3 separate regions of the Homo sapiens genome follow, and regions 2 and 3 are each linked to region 1. The links come from fine-mapping of genetic effects on gene expression. A gene starts in region 1. Each other region holds a variant in brackets. All regions are shown on one strand. Distances are between the middles of the regions.

What was found.
Region 2: its variant is fine-mapped to the expression of PRPH2 in prostate (GTEx, PIP above 0.99).
Region 3: its variant is fine-mapped to the expression of PRPH2 in thyroid (GTEx, PIP above 0.99).

The regions. Positions count from the first base shown.
Region 1 is chr6:42,719,798-42,725,142 of GRCh38, forward strand. It overlaps PRPH2 (peripherin 2), which reads right to left and starts at 2,800. Exons shown (of 3, transcript NM_000322.5): 1 at 1,957-2,800. The coding sequence starts at 2,537.
Region 2 is chr6:43,325,571-43,330,915 of GRCh38, forward strand. It overlaps the pseudogene RPL34P14. Among named protein-coding and RNA genes, the nearest start is that of CRIP3, 19 kb to the left of the region's middle. RefSeq lists a silencer at 2,941-3,235. The variant G/A (reference allele first, on the strand shown) is at 3,198.
Region 3 is chr6:42,672,834-42,677,833 of GRCh38, forward strand. UBR2 (ubiquitin protein ligase E3 component n-recognin 2) reads left to right here. Exons shown (of 47, transcript NM_001363705.2): 37 at 958-1,054; 38 at 1,293-1,360; 39 at 3,223-3,358; 40 at 3,950-4,040. Among named protein-coding and RNA genes, the nearest start is that of PRPH2, 47 kb to the right of the region's middle. The variant G/A (reference allele first, on the strand shown) is at 2,443.

The DNA of each region.
Region 1 (5,345 bases):
AACTCAGGTGATCCGCCCGCCTCGGCCTCCCAAAGTGCTGGGATTACAGGTGTGAGCTACCGCACCCGGCCCTAAATTGTCTTTATACTATCATTACACTGTATGATTATGTAAATGTTAACAAGACTAGACTGAAACTGAAATGTAGAAAAACTAAAGGCATTAATCAAGTTATGGGTGAGAAGCTAGCTTGAATTTGTTTTCCTATTTTGGCTTCTTTTAATATTACTGCTGTATTTTTTGTGCGTGTAATAGAAGAATTTTTCCAAGTCAGTGGAGTTAGGAAAATTTCCCACCAACAAGTTGGTATGGGACATTGAAGGAGTTTTGATTCAGCTAAATATTTGCCTGAAATTTTGGATCCATTGACCATTGAGAGTGGAGTGACCTAGATAATTCCTTCACTCTGATACAAAAGGGGATTTGGAGTTACCGAGAGATTTGAATACATCTGTCCAAGAACTGACTCTATGCAGGAGACAATCAAGGGAAATGATAGAGGAAAAGATGAAAAGCCCCTTCTCTGTGAGCCTCTGCTCACAGAGGCTGGTTCTACCATCGGCCTCTCCCACTCCCCAGAATTCTGCTTGTCCCCCTGGCTTCATGCCCTCCTCGGGAGATTTATGTAAATCGTGGCATCTTGTGCTGCCCCTGCAGACCTGTCACCTGGGAAGGGCACAGCCCTTTACAATCCTCTCCTGACTGGGGATTTGCAGCAGTAATCTCCATCCACAAGAAAATAAAATCCCAAGAAGTGACCTTCACTTGGACGTCCCTTCCATCTGCAGGGCAGATATAAGCTAGCTATTTGGGCGTCATTAATGTTGTTTTGGGCTTCAAACATGTCCTGCTGCTGGTGCCAATGCCCTGAGTTCAAGTTCCCTTTGGACTTGCCAGCCTCACTGGGAAGAAAAAAAAACCACCCTTAGGAATAACTGAACCCCTAACCTCAGCCAGGTAGGGTCGAGTCAGACAGAAAGAAGAGGTGAGGGAAAGCGGCTGCCTCAAGGCAGGCTGCCCTTTCCCTGAAAAGTCACTCGAGCCCCAGGTTGGTGGGTGTGTTGGGAAGAGCAGCCCGCTGGAGCCAGTGCACAGGCTGTTCCCTCCGACACAGTGGTCGAGAGTCTCTCTCTCACCAGCACCTCCCACAGCCCATCGCAGCATTTTACTTTTACATATGCCAAGAATACTTTAGAAATGCTTTATCACATTGCACTATCATGACTCGCTAAGTAAACACCAGCAAGCATTTAATGAGTACCTGCTGCATGCCAGCTACCAGGCAGGGCTAGGAGGTGACTTCCAAAATTACCTATTCTATTCCAGTGCTCATTTAAAAGATGGGCAAGCCAAAGCGCAGAGTGACTAGTGACCTGCCCAAGGTCACAAGACCTTGAACAACAGAACCAAAACTTCACCCTAGATCTCATGACTTCCCCTTCCTATGCTCTTTCCAACATATCCAGACAAACATCTTGGGAATGGATGCTCAGGGTTGAAAGGTTGGAAAACAAGGGAACTAACTAGGAAATTTAAACTTCTGGGACTGAATCCATCTACTTTGAATGAATGGGACAAATAGCCAAATAGTACCTCAGTGTTTGTGATCTATGAATGACTTCCATCCCTCTGTATAAAGTGGACACACATTGCTGCCTGGCTCTTCATCCCAAGGGGCTCCTATCCAAACAGCTTATATAAATTGATACCTTCCTACCACCTTAGCCAATGTTAGGTTGAACCCTATGAAGTTGTCATTTTTTATGGGTCAAAGAGGTAGAATATTAGCAATTTCATATGGTTCCACCTGATACACCCTCACATACGCAGCAATAAGTTGTGCACCCGATGGAGAGGAAAAGGCACTGGGTGCGGGGAGAGGGGCTGGTCAGAGGCCTGAGCCTCAGTGTCCCCAATATATTCATAGCTCTGACCCCAGGACTGGAAGCCACTCACTCTTTGACTTCTTTGGAGGAAAAGTCCAGGTAGCGATTGCTGATCCACTGAATCTCAAACCAGTCCCGAAAACCGTTGTTGCCGCAGCATTTGAACTCGATCTGCAGCATGTCGATGGTCTTCTTCATGAAACACCTGCCAGGGGTGTCTGTGTCCCGGTAGTACTTCATGCCGTTCTTGAGCCCTTGGCCCAGGGTGTTCTCCAGCGAGCCCCGAAGCAGAAAGCAGCAGAGAGCCACAAGGAAGAGGATGATGTTGAAGAGAACACAGATAGCCAGGTACGGCTTCAGCCAGGGCTTCCATCTGGCATACTTGGCTGGGTCCAGGGCGTCGTAGCAGATCTTCCCAGCCAGCGAGTTGAAGACACAGGATAGCACCCCCATCCCTATCAATGAGTTGGGCACAAAATGGCTCTCAGAATTATTCATCACATCGCTCCTCTTTCGGAGTTCAATCTTCAGGAACAGTCCTAGGCTGAAGATGATGATGCCAGCCAACACGGAGAACCAGTTCATGAGCCAGAGCCCTTGGGCCAACTTGACCCGCTTCTTCTGGTCAAACTTGACTTTCAGTAGCGCCATGCTTGCCAAGTGTAGTCCGGGTTGCTTCCCACAGCACAGCTCCCACCCCAAACCTTAACGAGCCCAGAGGCGGAGACTTAGGGCCTTGGGAAAAGTGCAGATGGCCCAAGCTGTAGGGAGCTGCCCTGGGGGCTACCCATGTCGAGTCCCACTAGCCTGGGATCCCCGTGAATGCAGTAGTGGTGGCAGGGGTCTCGGAATCACAGCTTGAGCAGGGGATAGTCCTGGTCCTGGGCGTTGTTTCTTCAGCGCCCTTCCCAGCCAAGAAGGGGCAGCCTGAACGCTGCAGATTAAAAGTGGGATCCACAAGACATTTTGCTAATCTCTTTAGCCAGGTTCATCCCATTAGATAAAGCCATGCCACTCTCAAAACATGGTCAAAAGCAGCCTCCAGGTACATGCTGAACCAGAAAGCTCTGGGTACAGCTTGGAGAATCAGGAGCAAAGGGCAAGACTGGCCAGAAGAATGGGCTGTATCTGGATGTCTGGCTCAGACCGTGTTGCTCCCCAAAAGCATATTTCCAGGCCAATCTCCTTCAACATTTAAAACTTTCTGTAGGACAAATAAATTGTTATCCTCTCTGAGAAAAGAAATGACAGGGCCAGGCACAGTGGATCACGCCTATAATCCCAGCACTTTGGGAGACCAAGTTGGGTGGATCACTTGAGCCCAGGAGTTCAAGACCAGCCTGGGCTACATAGGAAGACCCCATCTCCACACACACACACACACACACAAAAAAAAAAAAAAAAAAATTAGCTGGGTATGGTGGCATGCACCTGTAGTTCTCCCAGCTACTCTGGAGGCTGAGGTGGCAAGATCACCTGAGCCTGGGGAGTTCAAGGCTGCACTGAGCCATGATCGTGCCACTGCACTCCAGCCTGGGTGACAGAGTGAGGCCCTGTCTCAAATTTTAAAAAGACAAAGAAAAGAAGAGAAGAAGGAAGGAAAGAAAGAAAGTGACAGATCGTGAGAAAACATTTGCAACTTGTAAAATTAAAAAGTAATATACAGTGGCCAGGCATGGTGGCTTATGCCTGTAATCCCAGTACTTTGGGAGGCCAAGGCAGGTGGATCGCTTGAGCCCAGGAGGTGGAGGTTGCACTGAACTGAGATCCCCACATTGCACTCCAGCCTGGGTGACAGTGAGACTCTGTCTGGAAAAAAAAAAAAAAGAATTAATATGCAAAAATGTTTTAAGTCTCACAAATTCACAATAAACAAAAATTCACAATCAAAAGACCAATAATCAACTGGAAAAATAGGCAAAAACCAGGAACAGACAATTCATAATTAGGAAACTTGAAAAGTCCAATAATCTGGAAAAGATCTCAACTTGGGTAATAAGCAGGAAAATGCAAATCCAAACAACAATAAAATACCAAACTTGGCCGGGCACAGTGGTTCACACCTGTAATCCCAGCAGTTTGGAAGGCCAAGGTGGGTGGATCACTTGAGGTCAGGCATTCAAGACCAGCCTGGCCAACATGGTGAAACCCTGTCTCTACTAAAAATACAAAAATTGTCTGGGTATGGTGACAGGCACCTGTAATCCCAGTTACTTGTGAGGCTGAGGAAGGAGCATCAATTGAACCCGGGAAGTGGAGGTTGCAGTGAGCCAAGATTGCGCCATTGCACTCCAGCCTGGGTGACAAGAGTGAAATGACGTCTCAAAAAAAGAAAAAGACCAAACTCGATCCATCAAATTGAATGTATGTCAAAATTCTGTCACCATACATCAACAAAGAGAGTGGAAGTAGAAGTGTACACTCTTGGTGAATCTGTACATTTATTATTATTATTAATTAATGGATTATTTCTTACAGTAGTTTTAGGTTTACAAAAAAATTGAACAGAAAATACAGGGAGTTCCCATTATTCTCCATCTCCCCAACCAGTTTCTCCTCTAATTAATATCTTGCATTAATGTGGTACATTTGTTACAATTAATGAACCAATATTGATGCACTATTATTAACTAAAGTCTATAGTTTACATTAAGGTTCAGTCTTTGTGCATATAATTCTGTCACTTTTGCCAAATGCATAATGTCATGTATTCATCATTATTGTATCATACAGAATACTTCCACTACTCTAATAACCTGCCATGTTCTGCCTATTCATTCCTCCTTCCCTCACTCCTCAGCCCTGGGCAACCACCGTCTAGATCTATAGTTTTGCCTTATCTAGAATATCTTACAGTTGGAATCATACAACATGTAGCCTTTTCAGACTGGCTTCTTTCCCTTAGCAATATATGTGATTAATGATTCTCTGTATCTTTTCACGGCTTAATAGCTCATTTCTTCTTATCACTGAATAACGTTTCATCACATGGATGTACCACGGTTTATTCCTTCACCTATCAGAGAATATCCTGGTTGATTCCAGTTTTTGACAATTATGAATAAAACTGCTATAAACATCCACGTGCAGGTTTTTGCTGAAAAATTTTCCATTCATCTGGGTAAATATCTAGGAGCACAATGGCTAGATTACATAGTAAGACTATGTTTAACTTTGTAAGAAACTGCCAATCTGTCTTGCAAAGTGACTGTACAATTTTGCATTCCTACCAGCAATTTTTACTTCATGTCCTTGCCAACATTTGATATTGTCAGTGTTTCAGATTTTAACCACTGTAATAGGTGTGTAGCTGCATCTTGTTTGAATTTGCAGTGCCCTAATGACATTTGATCTTTTCATGTGTCATGTGCTTATTTGCCATCTGCATATCTTCTTTGGTGAAGTGTCTGTTCAGCACTTTTGCCTGCTTTTATTTCTTTTTGAGTCAGGATCTATCTA
Region 2 (5,345 bases), 610 kb after region 1:
AATAAAAAAACAGGTACTCAAATACTTATGCAGGAAATGTTCATAGCAGCATTATTCGAAATAGCCAAAGGTGGAAACAACTCAAATGTCCATCAGCAAATGAATGGATAAACAGATTGTGATATATACATATAATGGAGTATTATTCAGCTATGAAAAGGAATAAAACACTGATACATACTACAACATGGATGAATCTCAAAAACATTATGCTAAGTGAAAAAATAGTAACACAAAAATACAGATGAAAGGTCACACATTGTATGATTTTATTTATATGAAATGTCCAGAATAGATAAATCAATATAGAAAGAAAACAGATTGGTGATTGCCAGGGGCTGCAGGTAGGTGGGAATGGGGACTAACTGCTTAAGGGAAATAGTGTTTTATTTTGGGTGATGAAAATTTCACATATTTTATAATGTAAATTTCACCTCGATTTTTTTTTAAAAAGTACCAGAGATTGTTATAACAGTCAGATTACTGGTTACATTTTGGGGAAGTGGTAACTGGAAGATAACATGAGAGGAGCTTCCAGGGTGTTGGTCATATTTTATTTTTTGATTTGGGTGTTGGTTACCTAGGTCTGTTCACTTTGTGAAATTGTTAAGCTTAACACTTGTAATGTGTTTTGTTTTTTGTTTTTGAGATAGGGTTTTACTATCATCCAGGCCAGAGTGCAGTGGTGCAATCATGGCTCACTGTAGCCTCTACCTCGTGGCCTCAAGCGATCCTCCCACCTCAGCCTCCTGAGCAGCTGGGACTAAAAGCACCCGCTCCCATGCCCAGCTAATTTTTCTATTTTTTGTAGAGACAGGGTCTTGTTATTTCACCCAGGCTGGTCTTGAACTCCTGGACACAAGTGATCCTCCCGCATGTTGATCCTATCCAACATGGATAGGAGATTCATCCATGTTGGCCTCCTAAAGTGCTAGGATTACAGGCATGAGCCACTGTGCCCAGCCTGTTTTTAAAATATGAACATTGTACTTTAATATAAAAGTTTACTTAGAAAAAAGTTAAGGCCGGGTGCGGTGGCTCACGCCTGTAATCCCAGCACTTTGGGAGGCTGAGGTGGGCAGATCACAAGGTCAGGAAATCAAGACCATCCTGGCTAACACGGTGAAACCCCATCTCTACTAAAAATACAAAAAATTAGCCATGAGTGCTGGCGGGCGCCTGTGGTCCCAGCTACTCAGGAGGCTGAGGCAGGAGAATGGCCTGAACCTGGGAGGTGGAGCTTGCAGTGAGCCGAGATTGCGCCACTGCACTCCAGCCTGGGCAACAGAGGGACAGAGCGAGACTCCGTCTCAAAGAAAAAAAAAAGAAAAAAGTTAAATGGGGCCGGGCATGGTAGCTCACCCTGTAATCCCAGCACTTTGGGAGGCCGAGGCGCATGGATCACCTGATGTCAGGAGTTCGACACCAGCCTGGCCAACATGGTGAAACCCCATCACTACTAAAAATACGAAAATTAGCTGGGCATGGTGGCGGGCGCCTGAAATCTCAGCTACTCGGGAGGCTGAGGCAGGAGAATTGCTGGAACCCAGGAAGCAGAAGTTGCAGTGAGCTGAGATCGTGCCATTGCACTCCAGCCTGGGCAACAACAGCTAGACTCCATCTCAAAAAAAAAAAAAAAAGAAAAAAGTTAAACGGTTACCATATGACTATATATTCCTAGTTGTGCACCCTAGGGAACTAAAAACGTATATTTACACAAAAACTTGTACATGAATGTTCACAGATTATTCATAATAGGCAAAATATGAAAATAGCCCAAATGTCCAACAATTAGTAGACAAAACATGGTATATCCATACAGTGGAATAACTAGCCATAAAATACAATGATACATGGTATAACATGGATGAACTTTGACAACATTATGCTAAGTGAAAGAAGCCAGACACAAAAGAAATTTATTGTATGATTCCATTTATATTAAATGCTCAAAATAGGCAAATCCATAGAGACAGAAAGGAGACTGGTGATTGCCAGTGGCTTGGGAGTAGGGGTGACTGGGAGTATCTGCTAATGGGTATATGTTTTTTTTTAGAGGATGATGGAAATGTTCTGGAATTAGATAGTGGTGATAGTTGTACAACACTGAAGATACGAAAAATCACAGGACTATACACTTAAAAATGGTGAATTTGGCCAGGCACAGTGGCTCACGCCTCTAATCATATCACTTTGGGAGGCTAAGGTGGAAGGATCACTTGAGCCCAGGAAGTGGAGGTTGCTGTGTGCCATGATTGCAGGACTGTACTACTCCAGCCTGGACGACAGAGTGAAACCCTGTCTCAAAAAAATAAAGGTGAATTTTATGTTTTGTGAAATTCAACATATTAACTGTAATTCAATAAAAAAGATCTTACATATTTCATCATTCATAATACATGTGAATTCATATAAAATAAAAGAAGTCCAAAGGGGTCTAGAGGTATGGCAGACGTTCTCTTTCCCCTGTCTATATTTCCTTTACAATCGGCCACCATCGAAAAGTTGAGGAAGCCTAGAGCTCTCAGGAGCAGTCCTTTGAGCTTGTGTAGGGGCACTCAGAATGGTCCAGCATTTGACATACCATCATAGGCTTTCCTACAATATAGCCTCTAACAAAACCAGGCTGTCCCAAACCCCTGGTAATATAATTGTTTACCTTTATACCAAGAAGGTTGGGAAAGCACCAAATTCTGCATGTGGTGTGTGCCCAGGCAGACTTCAAGGGGTTTGTACTGTGAGACCTAAAGTTCTTATGAGATTGTGGAAAACAAAAAAAACATGTCAGCAGGGCCTATGGTGGTTCCATGTGTGTTAAATGTGTTCATGACAAGATCAAGCGTGCTTTCCTTATTGAAGAGCAGAAAATTGTTGTAAAAGTATTGAAGAGTCAGAAAGCTAAATAAAAATGAAGCTTTTTGAATAATAATAACAGAAAAAAGAAGTCCGAAAGGAAAAACAGTATTCTAAAAAATGTTCCCTTTCCCTCACCTATCCCCCAGATCAGTACAGCTCAGACACCATTGGAGAACTGAGGTCTAAGCAGCAAAGCAGGTGATGGAGGTAGGGCTGTGAGTCATAGTTTGTATGAAAGCTTGTGACCAACATCTTTGACTGTCCCTGAACAGAGGAATGTGACAGTTGATAAGAAACAGATCTTGGGCTGGAACAAAGGAGAGAAAGTGGTGGTGACCAAC[G/A]TGTTGGCAGCCCTGGCACCAGGTTGCTTTCCATTGCTTCATCCACCAGGTCATGCCTCAGGAATAAGTAATCCTTAACTAATATATCAGCAGCATGAGGCCCTGAGGTACTTTTTGCCCTTGATTGACTTCTTATTCCACTGATGGCTTTGCTTAATATCATGAATATTCCCGAAAGTTACTAAAACCATAGATGTATTTGGGCAGTAAACTAGACCTCCAGGACTCTAAAAATGCCTGGACTTACAAATCAAAAACAAAACCAGCCTGGCGTGGTGCTCACGCCTGTAATCCAAGCACTTTGGGAGGCCGAGGGGGGCGGATCGCTTGAGGTCAGGAGTTCATGACCAGCTTGGCCAGCGTGGTGAAACCCTGTCTCTACTAAAAATACAAAAATTAGCCAGGCATGGTGGCACACGCCTGTAATCCCAGCTACTTGGGAGGCTGAGGCAGGAGAATCGTTTGAACCCAGGAGGCAGAGGTTGCAGTGAGCTGAGATCGCGCCACTGCACTCCAGCCTGGGCAACAGAGTGAAACTCTGTCTCAAAAAAAAACCCAAAAGCAAAACAAAACAAAAAAACAAAACCAGCCTAATAGTTTTCAGGATAAATCTGGAATTGACACAGCTTAGATTTAAATAAATCTCAGAGTTTACAGGATTTAAAGGTCAGCTAAATTTTACTAGGTTCTGGTTCTCATTCCCACTGTGTTTCTGAGCCCATAGCCCCAAAGTACAAAGAGGAATAAAAGTACCTATTAGCATTTTTTGGCCAGGCGCAGTGGCTCACGCCTGTAACCTCAGCACCTAGTGAGGCTAAGGCGGGTGGATCACTTGAAGTCAGGAGTTTGAGACCAGCCTGGCTAACATGGTGAAACCCCATCTCTACTAAAAATAAAAAAATTAGCCAGGCATGGTGGCACACGCCTGTAATTCCAGCTACTCGGGAGGCTGAGGCACGAGAATTGTTTGTACCCGGAAGGTGGAGGTTATAGTGAGCTGAGATCGCGCCATTCCACTCCAGCCTGGCCGAAAGAGTAAGACTCTGTCCCCCCTCCAAAAAAAAAGGTACCCACTAGCATTTTTTCCTTTTTTCTTTTTCTTTCTTTCTTTTTTTTTTTTTTTTGAGACAGAGTTTCGCTCTTGTCACCCAGGCTGGAGTGGAATGGCGCAATCTTGGCTCACTGTGACCTCTGCCTCCCAGGTTCAAGCGATTCTCCTGCCTCAGCCTCCCAGCCTCCCAAGTAGCTGGGATTATAGATGACTGCCAACACCCCTGGCTAATTTTTTGTATTTTTAGTAGAGATGGGGTTTCACCATGTTGGCCAGGCTGGTCTCGAACTCCTGACCTCAAGTGATCTGCCAGCCTTGGCCCCGCAAAGTACTGAGATTACAGGCATGAGCCACCACACCCAGCCCTTTTTTTTTTTTTGAGTTGGTGTCTCTGTCCTCCAGGCTGAGGCGCAGTAGCCCAATCAAGGCTCACTGCAACCTCTGCCTCCCGGGTTCAAGCAATTCACCTGCCTCAGCCTCCCAAGTAGCTGGGATTACAGGCATATGCCACCATGCCCAGCTAATTTTTGTATTTTTAGTAGAGACAGGGTTTCACCATGTTGGCCAGGCTGGTCTCGAACTCCTGACCTCAGGTGATCCACCCACCTTAGCCTCCCAAAGTGCTGGGATTACAGGCATGAGCCACCGCGCCTGGCCCATTTTTAGTTTTTTTTAAATTTATTTTTGAGACAGGGTCTTGTTCTGTTGCTCAGGCTGGAGTGCAATAGTGCAATCAGAGTTCAGTGCAGTTTCAACCTCCAGGGTTCAAAGCGATCCTCCCACCTCAGCCTCCCGAGTAGCTGGGACTACAGGCATGGACCACCATGCCGGACTAATTTATTTTTTGTAGAGACAGGGTCTCACTATGTTGCCTGGCTGGTCTTGAACTCCTGGGCTCAACTGATCTGCTGACCTCGGCCTCTCAAAGTGCTGGGATTATAGGTGTGAGCTACCATGCCCAGCCCTTACTTGGATTTTATTTTATTTTTTTCAAGACGGAGTCTTGCTCTGTTGCCCAGGCTAGAGTGCAGTGGCATGGTCTTGGCTCACTGCAACCTCTGCCTCCCAGTTTCAAGCAGTTCTCCTGCCTCAGCCTC
Region 3 (5,000 bases), 47 kb before region 1:
CTTTGAGAGCAGGAGGGGGAGAATGGGTTTTATTTGAAGATCTTCAGAACCAAGACCTAGTGTATATAGTAGGACCTCAATATTTATTGAACCAAACATTACAGAAAATTTGGAAAATGAAAAAACAAGCAGGAAGAAAAAAGTCATCAACTTATCACATACCCATCTTTTTCCATTAGCATATTTATGCTTGATTACAATTGGTACTCACATGTAGCTTTGTTTCTGCTGTATTCTTTAAATCAAGAGTTTTCTTATTACTGCTACTTAGTCCTCATAACAATTTTTAATAGCTGCAGGCACCCTCATTTGTACCACCATCTTCTTAGACAGTTTCCCCAATATTTGGAGTATCTCTTTAGGATACTCTACATTTTACGGAAGAGTATCCACATTTTAGAGGATCTCTTTAGGATAAACATAAGAGATATGTGTTTTAGGGTATCTGTTTAGGATAAACATAGAGAAATACTGCATCCGCATCTTGGCTTGTTTATTTGTTTTTTGAGATAGAGTCTCGCTCTGTTTTCCAGGCTGGAGTGCAGTGGTGTGATCTCAGCTCACTGCAACCTCTGCCTCCAGGGTTCAAGTGATTCTCCTTCCTCAGCCTCTCGAGTAGCTGGGATTACAGGTGTGAGCCACCACACCCGGCCTGCACTGGCATCTTGGGAGTGTCCCTTGCTTTCTGTCAGATGCGTATATTCTATATTCTTTTCTTTTCCAGAGAAAACCAGCAACATGGTGGCAAAGAGATAGATTTCATTTATTCAGCACACACTTAGACATTTCCCATTCCATTTATCCTGTGTTAGAGGCATGTCATTGAGATGTCATAGATCTAGTTCCATACCATCTAGAGCAGTTTCATTGTGCATCCAGCTGTGCTCTGAACTAGCATTCCTGAAAGAGAACTGCTTTGCATTTTTGTTTTTTGTTAATTGCGTTGGTTTATTTTAGGATGACTGTCTTAGGTCATTGACGAGATTTGCCGCAGCACACTGGACAGTGGCATCAGTTTCAGTGGTGCAAGGACATTTTTGTAAACTTTTTGCATGTGAGTATTAATACATTTATAACATGTTGTAATTTTTCATCCTCTGAAATTTTGTTTTTAATGGTACAGCTTCTCTCAGTAATGAATTAAATATTTAGTAGTACTGGTTTTCTTATATATAAGCTCTAGCTTATAAATTCTCATGTGTCTTGCAAGAAGATAAATTTAAAGCAGATTATATGCATTTTAACATGTTGGCATATGAAATATGCTAATGTATTTCTCTTTAAATCTGTAGCACTGGTGCCTAATGACAGCCATGAGGAACTTCCATGCATATTAGATATTGACATGTTTCATTTATTGGTGGGTATTGTGCAGTTTGTTTGGACTTCTACGTCATACTATGTAACTTTACCTTAGGTTTGGTGAGCAGTGTAGTGGCAGACAGGAAGGAGTTATGTGATTTCCTTACCCCTTCTGAGTATAATTCTTTTATGAGAAACCTCAAAAAGAAAATATTTAGGAACCTAGTTGAGAGACTTGACCTGGTTATCGAGACGTCCTCTGACTCTTATTTTGCTTTATGGCTGAGGTTAGTATTTTAACCTCTCTGTGCTTTTAACCTGTAAAGAGATAAAAACACCAGCAACGGGTCAGGTGTGGTGACTCATGCCTGTAATCCCAGCACTTTGCGAGGCTCACCCCAGATCACTTGAGGTCAGGAGTTTGAGAGCAGCCTTGCCAACATGGTGAAACCCTATCTCTACTAAAAATACAAAAAATTAGCTGGGCGTGGTGGCACATGCCTGTAATCTCAGCTACTCAGGAAAGTGAGACAGGAGAATCACTTGAACCCAGGAGGCGGAGGTTGCAGTGACCAAGATTGCATGACTGCACTCCAGCCTGGATGACAGAGCAAGACCCCATCCAAAAAAAAAAAAACAGCAACAGAAGCACTGCTGCTGGCCCATACAGTGCTTTTGTACATTTTCGAAAATCTGGCAGATACAGCCCTGTGGTCACACTACTTAGCAGCAGAGAGCCCCTTATAATTCAGGGAAAGGTATGTCCTCTGAGCCAGGACATCCTAGTGCTAAGACACACAGCTGTCCAAATAGTGGGTAGCCAAATTTCAGCCCTACCTCAACTGGGTTCCCTTGCACAGGGTACAGAGTGTACTGCCACACCCAGCAGCCCCGAGTGCTGTGCCTTTATTCTCTGGACCTCAGATTCTGCCCCTTTAAGTTGGTTAGTACCTACTTTATATGACTATGTCAGAACTCAGTGAGTTAATCCATGTAACACACTTAGAGCAATATATTCCTAATAAATGCGGCTATTACTGTTCTCATTGCTGCAACTAAAACCACCACCACTTATACTGCCATGCAGACAGCAGGAGGCCAACAGAGCTAGCATTTGTGTACCTGCCAGCTTTTACATAC[G/A]TTCACACTTACATCTCTACAATTTACATGTAACATATTGTCTTTAGTTTACCAATAGGGAAACTGAGGCCTGATCAGAGATATTAATTTGTGTAAAACAGCTCATAAGAGGAGGAGGTAGGATTCATATCTAGATATTTATGGGTCCAAAACCCATGTTTTTTCAACTGCCTACAGTCCTGGAGAGAGTTCAGATACTGTTTTTGTTAACAATAAGCTATGTATAGAGGACCCACTGGATTAATGAAATCATAGTGCCCATCAAGAGTCCTGTAACTCAAGTCATTTCATGTAGCCAGTCCTATTGGATTTTCCAACATGGATGCCCTTTCTTTAAGAACAAAGATTTCTTAAAGGGAGGAGCTGAACTCAGGAGGGATCACAGTAAGAAAATGGAAATGTGACCAGGCGCGGTGGCTCACGCCTGTAATCCCAGCACTTTGGGAGGCCGAGGTGGGCGGATTACCTGAGGTCAGGAGTTCGAGACCAGCCTGGCCAACGTGGCAAAACCTCATCTCTACTAAAAATACAAAAAGTCGGGCATGATGTTGCACGCCTGTAATCCCAGCTACTCAGGAGGCTGAGGCAGGAGAATCGCTTGAACCCAGGAGGTGGATGTTGCAGTGAACCGAGGTTGCGCCATTGCACTCCAGCCTGGGCAACAGAGTAAGACTCTGTCTCAAAAAAAAAATCAAAATAAAAGTAAAAGTAAGAAGATGGAAATTTGCTTAGCTGTGAAAGGAAAGGCGATCTGTCTGATGTCCTGTGTTTGGTGCCTAGGTGGGCTTGGTGCTTGCATTTCCTGCGTTGCAGTGTCAGGATTTTTCAGGGATCAGCCTTGGCACTGGAGACCTTCACATTTTCCATCTGGTTACTATGGCACACATCATACAGATCTTACTTACCTCATGTACAGGTAACTCTTGCCTTTTTGTCAGTTTCTTGAAGGAAATACTTGAGTTTTCTGAGTTTTAAAAAAAGTATTAGAGGAAAAGGTATTTGGATGAGAATAACACATGAATAAGGCTGTTTTTTTCTGTGTATCTTCATATGAAAAGTTTTGAAACATTTCTTTCTCCTCTTAAAATTTCCTAGTAATGTGAATGTTTCTAGTTTTAATTTCATACATTCAGTAATATTTGTGTAGAATAGTAATTAAATCTTTTAGAATCTTATGTTTTAGAATGCCAATTTTGTTTTAACTTACATGTTTGTTAATGCCCACATGAATTCATCATTAAATTACGTTTTGCATTCAAAATTCTTGTTTTTCATACACTTTAAGACTATATTTATTTGATTTTACTTAAAACATGCCAGCTGGCTGTTTGGTTTGATTGAGATCAATACTGTGCTCCCACTTGAGGGATTACAATTTTGCATGTTTTCTAGGAATACTTCATGTTATATGTGAGTTTATGAATATATTTGCATGCTTAATGTCTTCAGTCCTTTTGATAACACTTAATTGGAAAATACAGAGTACTAGTATTTCCTTATCTTTCAGAAGAGAATGGCATGGATCAAGAAAATCCCCCTTGTGAAGAAGAATCAGCAGTTCTTGCTTTGTATAAAACACTTCACCAGTATACGGGAAGGTGAGTTAGTTATCTTTACATAACGCATTTCCCTAAATATTGCTAGATGATGATAGCATGAGAAAGGAATTCGTTTGTTAATTAGGGGAATTTGTTGTCTGTTGACATGTTTTTAAAATAAGACGTGGAGTGATCTGCAGAGCCTTTCTGAACTATTCATATACTAACATAATTGGAAATCTGGGAGAAAGGTGATAATATGCAGAGCTTCCCACATTTATTTGGCTGTGGAACCCTTCATTTGCTCAGGGATCTGGCAGAGACTAGAGGATAGATCAAATGTACTTTGGAAAGTTGATACTCTAAAACTTATGTTGTCTCATTCAGAATGGGAATTTAAAACTGCAAGTTAAATTGGCATAATTTATTTTTAAGGTAATATTCAGTAGTAGCAGGAATAAAATGAAATTATTAGAATTCCATGTATGGTTAGAGTCATGATTTGCTACAAATAGCAATTCAGTAGTTTGCTTAGCTTTCAACAGTATATATGTCAAGAATCTGTAGTCAGGAACCTATAAAAATGTCTGTTTTTTGACTATCCCATTTCTGAGAACCTACATTAACAAAATAATTCAACATATAGAAAAAAAACATATAGGCATATAAAGATGGACACTCCAGCCAGGCACGGTGTCTCACCCCTATAATCCCAGCACTTTGGGAGAATGAGGCTGGCAGATTGCTTGAGCCCAGGCATTTGAGACCAGCCTGGCCAACATGGTGAAACCCTGTCTCTACCAAAAAATACAAAAATTAGCCAGGCATGGTAGCATGTGCCTGTGGTTCTATCTTCTCAGGAGGTTGAGGTAGTCAGATCACCCAGGCAGGTGAAGGCTGCAGTGAGCCATCACACCACTGCACTCCAGACTGGACAAAAGAGTGAGACCCTGTCTCAAAAAGAAAAAGATGTACACTCTGATATTATTTATATTAGCAAATAATTGAAAGCAATCTAAG